Regions from separate parts of the Homo sapiens genome. Here region 1 is linked to region 2. Evidence: fine-mapped expression QTL. Tissue or cell type: blood mononuclear cells. Region 2 holds a variant in brackets; the other region holds the start of a gene. All regions are shown on one strand. Distances are between the middles of the regions.

Region 1 (8,653 bases), 28 kb after region 2:
TCTATGACTTCTCTGACTTCAAATCCAATGATCACTCCCACTCCTGCTCCCACAGATCACTCCCACTATGTCTGCTCCAGTCACAGTGGCTTCCTTGAACAACGTGACAGGCATGGTCACATCCTAGAGCCCCTGTTCCAGCTGTTCCTCTAATTCAAAGGTACTTCTCCCAGAAATTTCATTAGCTAACTCCCTTCGCATCCTTCAAATTGTTGTTCAAATATAACCCTAACTACAGCCTGACCTCTCCCCACTTAGCACTCCTGATCTTATTGCTCTACTTGTCCTTTTTCCATAGCATTTATCATCTTCTAAAATATTAAAGTTTATTATTTATTGTCTGTCTCCCCTTTTGAGAATATGAACTATAATCATCTTTGTCTTCACATATAATCCCAAAACCTAAATCAGCATCTAGCACATAGTAGGTACTTAATATTTTTGAACACATGAAAGTACAAGCCTTAACCAGAGACCGGTTTTGTGCAAGACAATTTTTCCACAGGCTGGGGTGGGGGGTGGGGAGAAGATGGTTTCGAGATGAAACTGATTCATCTCGGATCATAAGGCATTAGTCAGATTCTCATTGAGAGCGCAACCTAGATCCCTTGCATGTGCAGTTCACAACAGGGGCCAAGGCACTGCTGATCTGACTGGAGGTGGAGCTCAGGCAGCCAGGCGGAGTCGCCCTGAATAGAGATAAAGCTTCCTCAGCCTGCCAGTCACCTCCTGCTGTGCGGCCCAGGTTCTAACAGGTGGTGGTTAGGTACCAGGCCGTGGCTGGGTACCAGTCTGTGTCCCAGGGTTTGAGGATCCCTGCCTTACATCATCATACAAAGTTAATTTTAAAATGTTTCAATAATTTTCAAGACCCTAAATGAACTTTAGACCTCTTTATTATCAGTGAAGCCTTGATTATCTGAAATGAAGGTCATCTAACCTGACTTACTCCAACTTTCTTCTTCTCAAATGGGTATCACATATGTTCTTATTTTCAAAGATTTATGGTTTTTCATTTTTAATGTTAACTCCTCCTACCTGACTCGGCTACTTACTCTATTCTTGAACATTTCTCCCTTTGTTTTCTTAATCTATCACTTTCCAATTAGGCCAAATGCTCTCTAGCCTAAAAGCCCTATCAATATTGCCGTTAACCTCTTACTGCTTCCTTTCACTACAGACATTTCCAAAGACAATGACTGGCTCCATGTCCTCTCCTCCAAGTTATTCTTGACCCTAAAACAATGCGTTTTTCATTACCATACTTTATTTACAATGTATTATGATATATTTTTAAAAATACTTTTTTTCTGAAAAAAAATTACCTACCATTATAAAAGTACATATTAATATAATATGAAAGCCCTCTGTAATCCTACTCTCAGAGAAAGATGTTTTTAACATTTTGGTGTATAGTTCTGCCATATTTTTTCTGTGTATATGCTAACATGTATACTATTAGTTTCAAAAAATCTGAGGTTACATCATATATAATGTTTCACAACTTTATTCATGTACTCTATCTGGGCTATCATTCCATATTAACACATACCATTTGACATCATTCTCAGACAGTTGCAGTCCAGTATATGGATATAATGTGATTTAAGGCTTCCCTTCCTTTTACCGATGAGAATTTGGGTCATTTCTATTGTTTCATGGCAAAAAGACTTTAATAGATGTGTTCATTCCTCATTTTGCATCATCACAGGATTTCATCTTCTTAAAACACACTTCTCTTTGCATCAGTGATAATTTCCTTTCTAGTTCTCCTACTTTAACTGCTCCTTCCCATTCTTCTCTCCTAGCTTATTATCCTTTGGGCAAACATATCTATTCACATGGTTGAAGAATCTTTCCATTCTTCACCTTGCCTCAGCTCTCATTAATATTTTTAAATATTTCCATAAAAGTAGCCCAATGACCCCTCCAAGTTAACAGATGACAAGTGAATTCATCCTATGCCTTTGCAAACATCCTCTGGATCCTCATGTCAGCTAATATAACAACCCAAATAACTCAATCCTCAATCTAAATATCCTGAACTATTCTCTCTCAACCCCTATATTATAAAACCTACAAACTCAATCTCTATTGAATATATATTTACTTCCCCCTTTGTCTTCTTACTGTCTTCTTCAGATAGTTATTCTTGCCTTGGCCATTATAACAGCCTTCCATTTGGTCTCCTACCTCTAATAATTCTGCACATCCAATCCATGATATGAACTATACCAGATATCTTTAACAGGCCTGATCATATTATGAGCCAGCTCAAAAGTATCAAGTGTCCACCTACTAAACCAAACTCAATACCTCTCTCCCAGACTCAAATCTATTTTTCAAGTTCCATTTCCATCTCAACCCTTAGCTCCTGCTCCACTTATAACTTCCAATGTCTCACAGCTTTATTTGGTGTTCTGCAAGCCCAGAAGGCCCATCTCCACTTGTTTCCTTCTGAAAAAATCCAATTAATCATTAGACTTCTAGCTAAAAGATCACCTCCTGTGAATGATTCCCTGGCATTATAAAGAAATGTATATTCTCCTTTTAACACTTGAAACATCTTACCTTGTAACAGTCACAGAGATATTTATCAATCTAAATCATTTAGAAATTGTTATTTTAATTACATACGCAGTTAGTTTTTCTTTATAGATAATCTACTAAAGGACTGGGCAAGATCTGCCAACTGACAAATCAAATGTAGTCTGTTGGGGAAACTGTTGGAATACAAACGCTTTTGCTTCTTAAAAACCACAGTTAAACATTATCTGAACCAAGATTGTATAAGAGGATCCTGTTGACAACTTTAATCGTCAAGAAAAAGTCATACCTTTATAGCTGCTTTTTCATTAGGGAATGTGGCAAAAGCTGTATGTTTCTGAAACAGAGTTAAGGTACAAATTACTTCCAATATAATTTCAGTTTCTCACAAAGAAATCTGACTTTTTACCAGTGGAGTAATGTGACATGTTAATAAAATCACGGGAAAGGATGAAAACTCAAGACCATTTAACTGATTACTAATTTCAGTCCAGTGGTTTTCAATACTTTTTGAGTCAGACTTGAGATGAAAGCTATGCAACCTCTATCATATAAAGACACACGTTTTACACATGCAAATAGTTCAAAAGACCAAAAGTTTAAAGACCTGTTCTACACAGAGGGTCACTTTTAACCAACTAAAAATTTATTTCCTTCATTTATGACAGATCTAAAGATTTTAAACTTTCCTCTATACATAACAATGCGTAGTTTAAAAACATTCACCAACAGAGAAATCGTTCTTCAAGGTGCATATTTCCTTTGTGCTTTATCTTTGTAATAATGTTCAATGGGAGAAGTCTATTTTTAAACATAAATTATACGGATTTTAAAAACCATCAGAAAAGAAACACAAATCAACAGTAAAAGAATCACTATGCTAAGGAAGAGCTCTGGTCAATGCTTATTAAAAGTTACTTTAATAATTATATCGCACATTCTAATTTTGTCTAATCTGATACACGATGACCTGATGTACTTAAATTGAGCCATATATAATTTTTTTTTTTTAATTTGCAGGCATAAGTGACATTTAAACTGATCAAAATTGGTCTTTCTTCTAATTCAGTAACTCTCAACTTGGGCTGCACATTAACATTAAAATCACCTAGGGAAACTTTAAAACCACTGAGTCTTGCACCATCGCTATTCCTATTTTAATGAAGAGAAATCTAAAATATCTTTGGATATAAAGCAAAACAAAGTAATTGTGTAAATTCCTACACAGGTACTCTTAACAGCCCTAAAAAATTGTTCCCTAAAAGATGTCATCGGGAAATTTTTATGAAAAGCCTCTTTTTCTAGTTGAAATTCTGCATTTAATTTACGCAAGTCACCAATGTAGCTTCTCCTCTATTTTAATGAACGATTTAACATTGGCTTATAAATGAAGTAGGACTTTAAAAAATCCCTTGATGCACATTTGTAAGAATACTCTTGAGTCCAGGAGAAATAACCCCAAATTCAAAAAAGTTGTGAGGCTCTCAGGATGGATCCGAAAACTCAATATAACTAAGCTAATTTCCATTCTTCTGCTTTGTCGTTCTCACTTGCCCTTTTCTGCAGTGCTATGACTAATCCAGACTCGAGCCGATTAAAACTCCACTTCGCAGAGCAGATATTTTGATAAAAAAGAGGTAGGATGGGGGAGCTCTCATCACACAAGTCCATCTTCCCCACTCGTTTCCATTTTACTCTTGTCAGCGCTCCCCCTCCCCGGTCACTTCCCAAATGCCTTCCCGGGAGACTCCGGAGGGGCGCGCCCTTACCAGTCGCCCCTTATCTGACAGGACCCGCACAGACTGAGCCCCGAAGTACTTCAGCAAGTCCTCTTTCTCCTCAGCAGTAAGCTCAGCCGGCAGGTGCCTGACCAGAAGGGTTCGGTCGCCCCGAGGCGGGGAAAGCGAGGAGGAGCTCGTGCATCCCCTTGATATCGCAAGCGGCTGCTCGGGAGCTGCCATTTTCCTTGGAGAAGCAAAAACAGAAATCGTGGGAAGAAGTCTCAGTCAAAATCGCGGCATCAACACAAGCTGGGAGAAATATTTTTTCCGCCTCGCGCTAAGGATTCTGGAAACCAGGAAATACCGAGAAAGAAAGTCACCTTCTCGCGAGAACTGCGCCACCGAAAAGCGGCAACCCTTCGAAGACTCTTCGGGGAAGGGCGCGGTGCTAATGATTTAAATTCCAGGGGTCTCCGGAAAGACTTACAAGCAAAAATTGGCCCAGAGATGTGCGAGGGTTAACACAAGTTGTCAATCAAAGAAGGAAACAGGAACCCCAGCCACTTCAGGGAAAGAAGGTTGACGCTCAAGGACAAGAGGACTCACGACTGCGCATGTGCGGGCTGGGACCGTCACAGGGCGGGGCGGGGCGCACGGCGGGGCGGGGCGCACGGCGGGGCGGGGCGCACGGCGGGGCGGGGCGCACGGCGGGGCGGGGCGCACGGCGGGGCGGGGCGCACGGCGGGGCGGGGCGCACGGCGGGGCGGGGCGCACGGCGGGGCGGGGCGCACGGCGGGGCGGGGCGCACGGCGGCGAGCGCTATCTGGAGCTGACCGTGCGGCTCTTAATCCCTGGCCTTGGGAAAGTGAATTGGCCTGAATAGCAAGGAGGAGAACTTGGGTGTGGAAATACCGGGTATGTTCTTACAGTATTTAGATGGTAAAATATAAAGCTAGCCAGTTATTCTGTCAACTCATTAGACACCATTGTAGGGAGGAGAACTCAGTTTAAGGGGCAAAACGTTGAGAGTTCAGACTTTTTTCTTGAATCAGTAGGCATTTAGCAGACGGATAGGCCCCTGCCAGGGTTCATTTCGCAGAAATGGCAGCCTCTAGGGAGAGGTAACCTAATAAATAAATTATTGCATGTGTGTGTATGTGTGTGTGTGTAGGGGTGTGTGTGTGTGTGTGTGTGTATGTGTGTGTGTGTGTAGGTGTAGGTACTTTTCTCCCTATTTTACAGCTGAGGACACTGATGTACAAAGAGGTTAAATCACACAGCTAGAAAGTGGAAGAACTAAGTTTTGACCCTTGGTGTTCTGACTGGGGGTCTACATTCTAATCCACTGTTCTGCCTAGATTCTGAATGGAGTGAGGCAGGGATCATCCCCGGAGGGTCAGGAATGTACCCCTCACCCCATACAGAGAGGGCCTTGAGGATTCTAAAGAGAGGTTTTATGCTAGATGTAGCTGCTACAGTCTGGAGAACCAGAGTTCCTCTTACAGTTCTTTTTGCCACTTAAATAAATGTTAGAGATACAGCAGTAAGCAGTATACCAGCAATCTGCTGTCATCCCGCATTGGTTGGGGAAAAGGAGAGAGACAGATATTAATGAAAACTAGAAGACAAACATGAGAAGAACCTTCCCCACACACCCACCAAAATATCAGATAGGTAGAGCCAGACCACGTAGACGCTGTAGATTTGTTAGGAGCCCTTTTTATTTGAGGAACATTTAGAAACTGACAAATTCTTTAAGTAGGTGTGTGTTGAGGGGAGAGAATCAAAGTTTAGGTATGAAAATTTCTCCGGTTGCAATGCAAAAAACAGAAGCAGAAAGACCAGTTGGACTACTGTAGAAGTCTGGAGAAAAACACTACCATAATAGTTTGGTGAAAGTGGACATGTAGAGAAGGAACTGGAATTGAGATACGTTTTAGAAGTAGTTGATAGGAACTTGCAGATGAAGAATAGTAAGCAAGGATAAATTCTGGATTTTTGGCTTAAGCTAGATATTATCCATCTGTAGATGATGATGCCATTTACTGAATGTGAGAAGATTGACCAAGTATAGCTAGGTTAGAAACTGTAGTGGGACATTGGGAATAGAGGAACATATATTAAGTTTAAGGTATCTATTCAGTATCCCTGTTTCAAGTAGGAAGTTGAATGTGTGTGTTTGGCATTCTTGGGAAAGGTTACCACGAGGTATGGCATCAACCTATATGGTATTTATATCTGAAGAATGACAAAGGGTATAGATAGAATTGTGCCCATAATGGAGTCATGGGACATGCAGATGTTGAGAAGTTGAGGCAAGGAAGAAGAAGAAGACAATCAATTCCTGCCCTCTCAATGCTTACTTTCTAAAATCAAGACAGAATAAATATGTAAATAAAGTTCTTTTCAGAGAATAATAAGTGCTTTGGAAAAAATAGGGTAGTGTTATAAACCGATTGGAGTGGTCATGCTATTTTAAACACTATCCTTCAGCGGCTTTTTTGTGTGTGTTCTTTGAAGACTTGTTTGGAGCTTCTAGCAAGGGAGCACTGCTACACGTATGCCCTTACAGAAAAATCATCCTCCTTTATGGGGGTAAGTCATCCTCCTCAGCCGAGTGGGCAGCTTTGGAAGAGACATATATGGGGCAGTTAGGAAGGAAGGGGAACCCAGCTAGTTAGCCAGATCAGCCAAATCAACTGTTGGGATCAGTTGGTGACAGGTGTCATGCAAAATGACCGTCACATCCTCCCTGTGACTCTTATGTTTAGTAAAATGTTCCAGACATAGTGCACATTCTGTAAATATCTATTCAATGAATGAATGCATGAAGGAATTCACTTTTATATTTACCACTGCCTCCTACGGTTAGGAATTACTACAGGGGCTATCAGGCAGAGTTTAATGGTCATTATCTACTGTAATTCAGGTATCATGACTGAGTGGAATAGTTACATGACAGAATTTTATTTTCTCTCTACTTAATTGCTTTTAGTTGTACTCAATGAAATCTACCTTATCCTTTCCTTGACAATATCTCAGGTAGAGGTCATAATTTTCTAGTCACTTTCAGTTGCTATCAGTACAGTTGGTTAGAGATGTCAAGTCCAAACTCCATTAAGGTGTCTCTTCTTACACTCCCCTCATATCAGGCTTGACCTAAAGGATTGCAGGAATATGTAATACACTCTAATCTTTTCTGTGTCTGAGTGTAGGTATGTGTGGTCGTATCTGAGAAGTACCTTTCTCATTCCCTCCTCTTTGTCTAGCCCAGAAGTTGCCAAACTTTTTCAGTTATTGGTAGCTTTATTGTCCCAGCAGTTTTTTCTAGCACCCCTTGATGCCACCTTATTTCCTATTCCACTCTGGTTTTCCAGGAAGCACTTGTTTTATATGAGAGCAACAGCCAAAAACCCAGCTTTTCAAATATATGACATTCTTAAAAGGAATTAAACAGTATCTAATGTTCAAATTGAGAAACATCTCAAGCTGGTAGTTCAGGTAGTGTCTGGTAAACAGTGAGTATTGCTATGTTTCCCTCAAATATTTAAAATATCCTATAGTACCTCTATAAGGTGGCAAGGGTACCTGGGGCACCTTAGCACAGTTTGAGAACTGTGAATTTAACTCATTTTCAGTCTTGATTTTCTATGTTGGGGAATGGGAGGCGGGAAAAGTAGTGGAGCTTGGGAGTGTCTGACTTCACTGAGCAATTGTTGGTTCTTTATCTCATTCTTATTCTCAGGGGTTTTGTGTGTTGATGGAGGTCCCCGCTAATGTGGTGGTTTTCTTGGGTTAATTTTCATCTTCATCAGTTCCTCCATGTTACTGAGTACCTTCTCAGACAGAATTACCTTTTTTGCTTCCTTTGGTTTATGTCCCTAGTTTTCCTCACTTGACCACATGGCTACTTGTACTTCCCTATTACATCTTCCCTTTTACCCCCAAACTCCCCATTTTTCCGCATGAAGACAGGAAAACTGCTGGGTCCTATCTCTGGCATGCTTTGGAGAACTACAATAGGGAGAAGGGTTGATCCCAATATTTGTCCTGGCTTCTAGCCAAAAGCATTCCCCTCACCCTTCATAGCCAAGCTTCTAAAGAGAGAGACATAATTATTCTTATTTCTTCATCTCCCATTCACTCCAAAGTGTGCTCCTGACTTCTGATCCCATCAGTCCACAAGGTAGTTCTTCTTAGGGTCACTAGTTACCTCCCAGTTACTAAATCTAATAGGCCTTTTCAGTTCTCATTTTAGCTTCTCAGCAATGCTTGGCATACTTGACCACTTCTTCGTTGAGACGCTATCTTCCCTTGGTTTCCAAAACACACCACTTCTCCTACTGTTCGATCTCACTTTCTCTCATTGCCTTACTCTAGTAAAT
Region 2 (8,653 bases):
ATTTATTCTTCTCTTGACTTTCTACATCCTAATGGAAATATGAAAATCAAAGAGCTTAAGGAAATGTTGTGGCTGTATCAATCAGGACAGAATAGGTTATTCTGCAGTAATAAAAGAAACTAAAATTTTTCAGTGGCTTACAATAACCAAGTTTCTCATGTTCAACTAGGATCAACAAAGGCACTCTTATTAGTCCCTTTGTAATGTCACAAAAACTTCATTTTGACACATGCTTTAGCAATCGGGAACTCCCCAAAGTAAAACAATCTTTCTGCTCACATTTCACAGCCAAAACAAATCACATGGACATTCCCAAATTCAACAGGATGGGAGTATTTCATTTGCAGGGCGGATCACTAATATTTATGAACAATAGTATATTGCATATATGAGATCAGAAATAAAAACTAACAGGAAAAATAAAAGAATTTTCATTGGAGTGAACATTTGAAAAATAAGAAATGCGAGTTTAAATATATAAAGAAAAATACAATATATAGAGCTTCTCACCTCCATCCTTTCCTTCGATAGCAAGACATTCAATTTCTTCCAAGTTTGTATGATCATTTCTATGCATGTTTTTATGACTTACTTCATCTAATGTTCCCATAAATAACATATAATGGAATTTTATGTAGTTACCTTTTTCTAAGCTTTGAAAAGTTTCATAAAACTGCTCACATCTTCTTAAATTTTGGATATTCAAAGATCACGGTATACAAATACCATATTAAGTGCTATTTTATAATTTACAAAAAATTAAAATTTCTTATGTAAAATACTTTTTTTTTTTTTAATCTAACTCCATCACTGAAGCTGGAGTGCAGTGGCCCAATCTCGGCTCACTGCAACCTCCACCTTCGGGTTCAAATGATTCTCCTGCCTCAGCCTCCCGAGTAGCTGGGACCACAGGCATGAGCCACCATGCCCAGCAATTTTTTTTGTATTTTTAGTAGAGACGAGGTCTCATCGTGTTGGCCAGGCTGGTCTCAAAATCCTGACCTCACGTTGATCCACCTGCGTTGGCCTCCCAAAGTGCTGGGATTACAGCCGTGAGCCACTGCACCTGGCCTCTTTCTTAATTTCTAATTGATAACCTTTTAAATAGATACAACCACCTCAAGTCTTTATATATTAGTCACAGATGTTCCAGTCTTACTTGATATCCTGGCTTTTTCTTCATTGCTTAGACCTTGTGCATGTTGGGTACAGGGTATATATTTCCTGATGCTTATTCAATGTTTTGTGTGTATGTATGTATGTATGTATGTGTGTGTGTGTGTGTGTGTGCGCGCGCGCACGCTTTAAGATTTCCTATTAGCTTTTAAATGGACGCTCTATATACCGTTTGTTTTCAGAAAATATAGGGTGGGACATTTTGCAGCTTAAGTACTTGGGATGAGAACTCTATTCTTCTTGAAAATCATCAGTTGTATCTCTTAGGTGTCTGACACAGGGGGTTAGCTCACATATCTACTGAATAATCCTACTGAGGTCATTATTTGTTAGCATGAATTACTAAAGATAATTAAATGTAATAAAGTATCTTACAGTTGACACATTAAAGAGCTTTCCATTACTCACAAAAGGAAGTGCTGTCTTCTCACAGGGTAGTAAAGATAAAATAATTACAAAAAGCACTCAGCACAGTTCTTGTTGAGATTTCAAAATTCATTTAGATAATGCTTTCAATCTCCTAGGTTCCCAATTTCTTGAATTCATCTCCTTCCATCACCTTGCCTCTATGCTACTCCCATCCTCACATCCTAAAACTTATAATCACTAAGTACTATATACTTAGTACTATTATACTATACTTAGTATACTATACTTAGTACTATTATACTATACTTAGTATACTATACTTAGTACTATTATATATTATTATACTCTAATTTCAATTTCAGCCACCCCACTCTTATTTAAATCTCCCAAATTTCTAGTTTGTACCTCAAGAACTCCAATGCATCTTCAACCACACTGCAATCTACAATTGATGATACCATTTTCCACTGTCTCAACCTTCTTTATTTTCTCACTTCACTCCTTAACCCAGATTACTTTCCATATCTCTCTTTTATTATCTTTCTCTTAAATGTAACAACATCTCATCACTGTCTTATTCACCTAGGGAAATCTCAACTTTAGTTAAATTGAATTCTGTACTTTTTCAGTGATAGCACCTATGCTGAACTCAACTGGAGAAAAACACAAAACCACATTGACTGATACCACTTAAATAAACCACAGATTGCCTAAGAGTATGTTTACTTTCCTACATTCCTGGATACCCATTTTACATCTCCTTTTCCTTCCTTAATCCTTCATGACTTCCTCCCTCTTTATGACCTTGTTTCCTATTTCTCTGAGAAAATATAACAAAAATTTGACATGCTCCTATTTACTGAACTACCGACATCTAGAACTCCATAATCTGCCCTTCATCCTACCGTTACTAATGAGCTGTTTGTGTGCCTATCTTTAAAACGAACCCTTCTATTTGTATACCAGGTCTATGGCTTCAGCAATATCCCTCTCTTTCCGGCATTATGTTTTTTCTCTCTACTGAATCAGTCTGATTAGCATACAAACCTGCTATATCATCAATCTTAAACAGCTTTTTGATACTACATTGCCCTCCATTAACAACCCATTTCTCACAACCCCTTGAACGCAAGACTCTTTAAGAGTTGTCTTCGATACTCACTATATTAAATTCTTCTTCAAAATTCTCTTGAATACCCTTACTCCTGACATCCACCAAGTTTGTCAACGTCAAGTTGACAAAAAAGAATGTTTTCCTACGTATATACAGCTGAAACTCATTTCATTAAAGGAACAGAATAATTTTATGTGGGAAATATTTTCACCTTTGAGTGACGTTCTGACAGATGAAAGATTTGGGGGAACAAAAATGGAAGACTGTATTACAGCAAGGATACAAATTTCTAAATTGGGATAAACCCCCATTTCCAAAAAACCAAAAGCCCAGTAAAACTCAAAGCCAGACAAATATAAAATAATTACAAAAAACAAGATTACAATAAAAAAAATGTGAAAGTGCTTTGGTATCCAGGTAAGAATTTTTAAAAGGCAGTATTTGTAATCATAAAAAAATTATATTACAAATTATATATATTTTTTATAATATTATGTTTTCCTAGATGTGTTAAACCAGATAAAGAAAAAATACAAACACTATTTTATTGGAAAGGAAACAATTTATTATATTTGAGGAAAATCATTAAAATACATGTAATATGTTTCCAATTCACTGATTTAAAGGCATATAGATTTAATTTTTAAATACACTTTCAAAGCTGTTACGCACAGTTCCATAGTCCAGGTGGTCAATTTCTTCCTCTCAAAGTTAGAAA[G/A]CACTTGAAGGACACGGGATTCAAAAAAACCTAAAACATCATAAAAGCCCATTAAAAATAGGAAGTATAACACAGGTCATTAGTTTAAAAATAACTAAGAGCTGAACCATTTATATTTAGAAAATTAGTGAATCATGTCAGTATAACAAAATTTATCTAAATAAACCGCTTATAAAGAAACTGATTTATAACATTTACAAAATCTTTTTAACTATGCCTACAGAAAAATAATTACATTTTCAAAATCTATAGGTTTTGTACTTTTAAGGTGATAATAACCGAATTTTCAATTGTTTTCACAGATCTAATAATAGTAGCAGATTTTTCAACAAAGAAACACAGAGGCTCCAACCCTTTATTTTCCTAGTTATTAATATAAGGTTGGATGGCTAGGTTGATACTAGGTACCTAATCATTTTACTCTAACAAAGCAGTGTCTAAACTGGTCAGTCCTTAAAATTACTAAAGAAACCTTTTCAAATCTGATTGTTATACTCCATTCCCAGAGATTCAGATGTATTAGTTCTAGGGTAGAGTACAGGAATCTTTATGCATAAAAACTCTTCCTTGGTGGTTCTCGACCTTGTTTGTATATTAAAATCAGTTTGAGAGGTTTATTCCAACATCTGTGCTACACTCCCAACACCTTAAATCAAAATTCTGACCAAAGGAACCAAGCATCAATATATTTCTTAAGGATTTTTTTAGGAGGGAGAGGGTCTCACTCTGTCACCCAGGCTAGAATGCAGTGGTGTGATCATGGTTCACTGCAACCTCAACCTCTGGGGCTCAAGTAATCCTCCTGCCTTAGCATCCCAAGTAGCTGAGACCAGAGGTGCAAGCCACCACACTTGGCTAATTTTTGTATTTTTTGTAGGGACAGGGTCTCCCTACATTGCCCAGGCTGGTCTCAAACTCCTGGGCTCAAGTGATTCTCCCATCTCGGACTTGCAAAGTGCTGGGATTACAGGTATGAGCCACTGCACCCTTTTAAAATTAGTATTTAAGTTCCAGATCACTGCAATGTGCAGCCAAGACTGAGAACCACTGTTCTTGGTGATTACGGTCATCAACCAGTCTGGAAACCACTATTCCTATATACCTGCCAAGACTGTTTTTCCTTAATGCACTACCCTTAGTGGGCATTATGTGTTCTCCCCTCTATTACGCTTTTCTTCTCTTGTTTAGAAAAAGAAAGGGGAAAGAAGAAAGATACTTCTATTGCTATCTATGTCAAAAGAGATTCACTAAGACTTCAGATGAGAGGTCTGCTACTCTCTAGAATTTACATAGTAATCCAGACATCTTAATTTTCAATGTAAGTACTTTTTAAAAGAAAAACATTTCCTTTGCCCAAATTTTAAACACATTATAAATACCTAAACCAGATATATTACACAACAGAAAGCATATGTTATTGAATTAGGTTTAGGAAACATACAAATAGAAGAAACAAGACTGTATTCTGGGTTAAAGTAAATGAACACATTCTCTAAGTAAGTTGACCTGATTCACTAACTTTCCCTCAAAAAATTATATAAAGGACAGCACAGAAAATTCAACAACAAATCTAAAAACACATAAAAGATCTGTTCAGTCTATACAAATAATTTTAGAAATATTTCATTTGAATAAAGTGTAAAAAAGTATTCCTTAACCTGGATCAACAGGTGGGGGAAGGACAAACATTTCTAGGAAAAAAACAAAAAAACACTGCCCCAAAAAGGATACGACAAGAAAGGATACACTTTGCATGACAGTATTACAGCAGTATTTACGCAGGAATGCTTCTAAAGAAGAACAGCAGAATGCAGTTTAATTTTTTTCTTATTTTTCAGCACCAGATTTAAAATAAATGATGTTTAAAAATACAGACTGAAATCCATCTTTCCTCTAAAGTGTTTATAAGACTTGTGACTACCCAGTATAGACGTACAACAAAATTCAAATATTCAAGCCATCTCAGAAGGACTAAATATTAAACAAAATTTTCCCTTATTTACCCATATTTGGCAGTTAAACACCAGTAATTGTGACCAATTACTTCGTGTTCTTTTAGTTTACAGAGGAACAAAAATTTAAATAAAAAACAAAGGAATATATTTCTACTTATTTCTTGAACAATGTAACAAACATTAACATTTAAAATGCTTAATTCTACCATATTTAATCATCAAATTAAGTATGCACTAAAATTACCTGTTTTAAAGACAAAAAATATTTAACTCCACAAACACATATTGTTGTGAAATGTGTTAATAATTTTATATACTCAGCACTGTAGATTTTTTTTTTTTTTGAGATGGAGTCTTGCTCTGTTGCCAGTGTGGAGTGCAGTGGCGTGATCTTGATCTCGGCTCACTGCAACCTCCACCTCGCAGGTTCAGGCGATTCTCCTGCCTCAGCCGCCCACGTAGCTGGGACTACAGGTAGGCGCCACCACACCCAGCTAATTTTTGTATTTTTAGTAGAGAGTCGGTTTCACCATGTTGGCCAGGATGGTCTTGATCTCTGGACCTTGTGATCCGCCCACCTCCACTTCCCAAATTGCTGAGATTACAGGGGTGAGCCACCGTGCTCAGCCAGAATTATTTTTAATGACAGTTTGACTTTTTTTTTTAACTTTTATTTTAACATTTACTTTAGGTTAATTTTAAGAGTTAGAAAATGTATCTGTAAGTGTTTATTCCAGGAGTTTTCAAGCTGTGGTCTCTGGATAAGATGCCTCATCATTACCTGAAACCTCATTAATCTCGCAAATTTTCAGGTGCCAACAAGGGTGACCGACCTGTCTTGGCTTACCAGACACATTCCCCATTTCAGCACTAAATGTCCAGCATCCTGGAAATCCCCTCATTAAAAGGAAAACTGGTATAAACAGTTTCCCTAGGTCCCCACATCAGACCTACCAAATCAACTCTTTCAGGGAAGGAAGGAACCTACGAATCTGTGTTTTATTAGGCTCTCCAAGTGATATGATACATATTAGGGTTTAAGAACCATTGCTTTACTATAGGCAGAAAAAGTTAAAAAAAGAGTAACAGGCACACTCCCCTTATAAGATTCATTCTCCAAACTTAATTTTCACATATAAATGGGTTTTAATCTGTAGTTATAGTTTTGACGTTTAATGGGACTTAACTGCACAGATAGGTATTTCCTCAAAAAAAAAAAAAAAGAGATACCTGAATTACTACCTTGTCAAACTTTTATTCTTAATTTTATCTCAAGAATTAGTCTTGTCTTTTTATTATGTTTTATTCACACTTACCTTTATTAATTTTTAACACTTTCTTTTTCCTTCCTTAGGATCTTGTTTTGGTCTAGCAGATCGAGCAAACTGCTAATAATTTAAAATTAAGGTTTCCTTCATGAATATGCAAGTAATCTTTTCTAAATAATTCTCAAAAACTTTCTAGTGTATGGTGGGAGTATGGTTTTTTAATTTACCTTGAGTGCCTCCTGCCTCTCTTCATGACTTGAGAGGAAATTAATAATTAACTTTTCCTTTACAGTCATTATTTTTTATACCTGGGCCTTTGCTTCTTTACCTATCTTGCTGATTTCTAGTTTGCAAACTGCATTGACTACTAAAAGCAAGATGGTTAATCAATGATATACTCTAGTTATTAAAATTCTCATGTAGAAATATAAATTACAATAAAATGATAAAATGAATTAGTTCTTTTATGACTCCAAATGTACTTCTGGATACTCTAGTCTCTTAGCATGCCTATGTACTTTTGAGCTGCATAAGTGAAACATTTAAACTTGGCTGAAATTGAACAACCTCATGCTGCTGAAGCTCTTTTATTAAAAATCTAAATAACACTGTCATCTGACTCAGTAAGGTGGGTTTAATTGTAACGAATGAATATCTACTGCTAGAATGCCAATTGTGGAAATTTCTAAAGGGTAACATGAAAATTAATTTCAGTTATATCCTTCTAAAAATTATATAGTTTTGAAATAGATGGATTTAAAGGATACAACCACCATGGGTTTTCCAAAAAGCACATATCCATTAGCTTCCTTTAAGGCTTTTGCTGCTGCTTTTTCATTAGGAAGTCCAATGAAAGCTTGTCCTTTCATACGACCTTCTTTCATCAAACGTATATCAAACCTAGAAGGAAGAAACAGTTTTGATTCAAAGAATGTCAGTTTCAATGTGAATGAAAATGTGTTGAATAATCTAACATTTTGCTATTTCAAATAAAAGTGACTACACTATTTGATAGGCACGTCAATTATTCAGTTTTCTAAAAATATATTTCATGTTCTGCACTAAAATTGATTCTACAAGTAGGTAGTATTTGTTTAAGATATACTTTTAACTATTCTCAACTATCATAAAAGTATGTGATTTAAAAATTATACTATTAGCAACTAGAAAACCAAACTTCTTTTTTTTTTTTTTTTTTTTGAGACAGAGTCTCACTCTGTCACCCAGGCTGGAGTGCAGTGGCATGATCTCCGCTCACTGCAAGCTCCATCTCCCAGGTTCACGCCATTCTCCTACCTCAGCTTCCCAAGTAGCTGGGGCTCCAGGTGTCCGCCACCACGCCTGGCTAATTTTTTGTATTTTTAGTAGAGATGGGGTTTCACCGTGTTAGTCAGGATGGTCTCGATCTCCTGACCTCGTGACCTCGTGATCTGCCCGCCTCGGCCTCCCAAAGTGCTGGGATTACAGGCGTGGACCACCGCACTGGCTGCAAACTTCTTAAATTACTATTTATCTCAATTTTTTAAGTTCCTTACAATCTGGCACTATCTGCTCAAGTGATTAAAAAAACAACTACTACTACATAACCAAGAATGGAAAAATAGAAAGGATTAACAGCCAGTTATAAGCAATTATAGAATTCATTATATTATTATTATTATGATTATTATTATTTTTGAGACAGAGTCCTGCTTGGTTGCCCAGGCTGGAGTGCAGTGGCGTGATCTTGGCTCAGTGCAACCTCCACCTCCTGGGTTTAAGCGATTCTCCTGCCTCAGCCCCCCGGGTAGCTGGGATTACAGCCGTCTACCGCCATGCTTGGCTAATTTTTGTATTTTTAGTAGAGATGGGGTTTCACTATATAGGCCAGGCTGGTCTTGAACTCCTGACCTCAAGTGATCCCCCCCGCTTCGGCCTCCCAATGTGCTAGGATTACAGGCATGAACCACCACACCTGGCCTAGAGTTCATTATATTATTATAAGCAATTACAGAACTTCGGAGTAGAAAGGAACCTCAATGATTATCTAATTAAAACCATAATTTTACAGGTG

The links. PIP is the estimated chance that this variant, and not a neighbour inherited with it, causes the effect. A credible set is the group of variants that fine-mapping cannot tell apart.
Region 1: RNPC3 starts here. The variant in region 2 is the best candidate, but not a certain one, in a credible set for the expression of RNPC3 in blood mononuclear cells (TOPMed, PIP 0.87).

Annotation. Positions count from the first base shown.
Region 1 is chr1:103,521,926-103,530,578 of GRCh38, reverse strand. RNPC3 (RNA binding region (RNP1, RRM) containing 3) reads right to left here and starts at 4,880. Exons shown (of 15, transcript NM_017619.4): 1 at 4,317-4,880; 2 at 2,837-2,884. The coding sequence starts at 4,508. It overlaps RNPC3-DT (RNPC3 divergent transcript), which reads left to right and starts at 5,071. Exons shown (of 4, transcript NR_168321.1): 1 at 5,071-5,183. It also overlaps the pseudogene RN7SKP285. RefSeq lists an enhancer at 4,429-4,668 and a silencer at 4,989-5,088.
Region 2 is chr1:103,549,788-103,558,440 of GRCh38, reverse strand. It overlaps RNPC3 (RNA binding region (RNP1, RRM) containing 3), which reads right to left. Exons shown (of 15, transcript NM_017619.4): 13 at 7,368-7,500; 14 at 6,649-6,720; 15 at 3,202-3,407. The coding sequence ends at 6,661. It also overlaps a transcript of AMY2B not described here. Among named protein-coding and RNA genes, the nearest start is that of AMY2B, 17 kb to the left of the region's middle. RefSeq lists a silencer at 733-951. The variant G/A (reference allele first, on the strand shown) is at 3,378.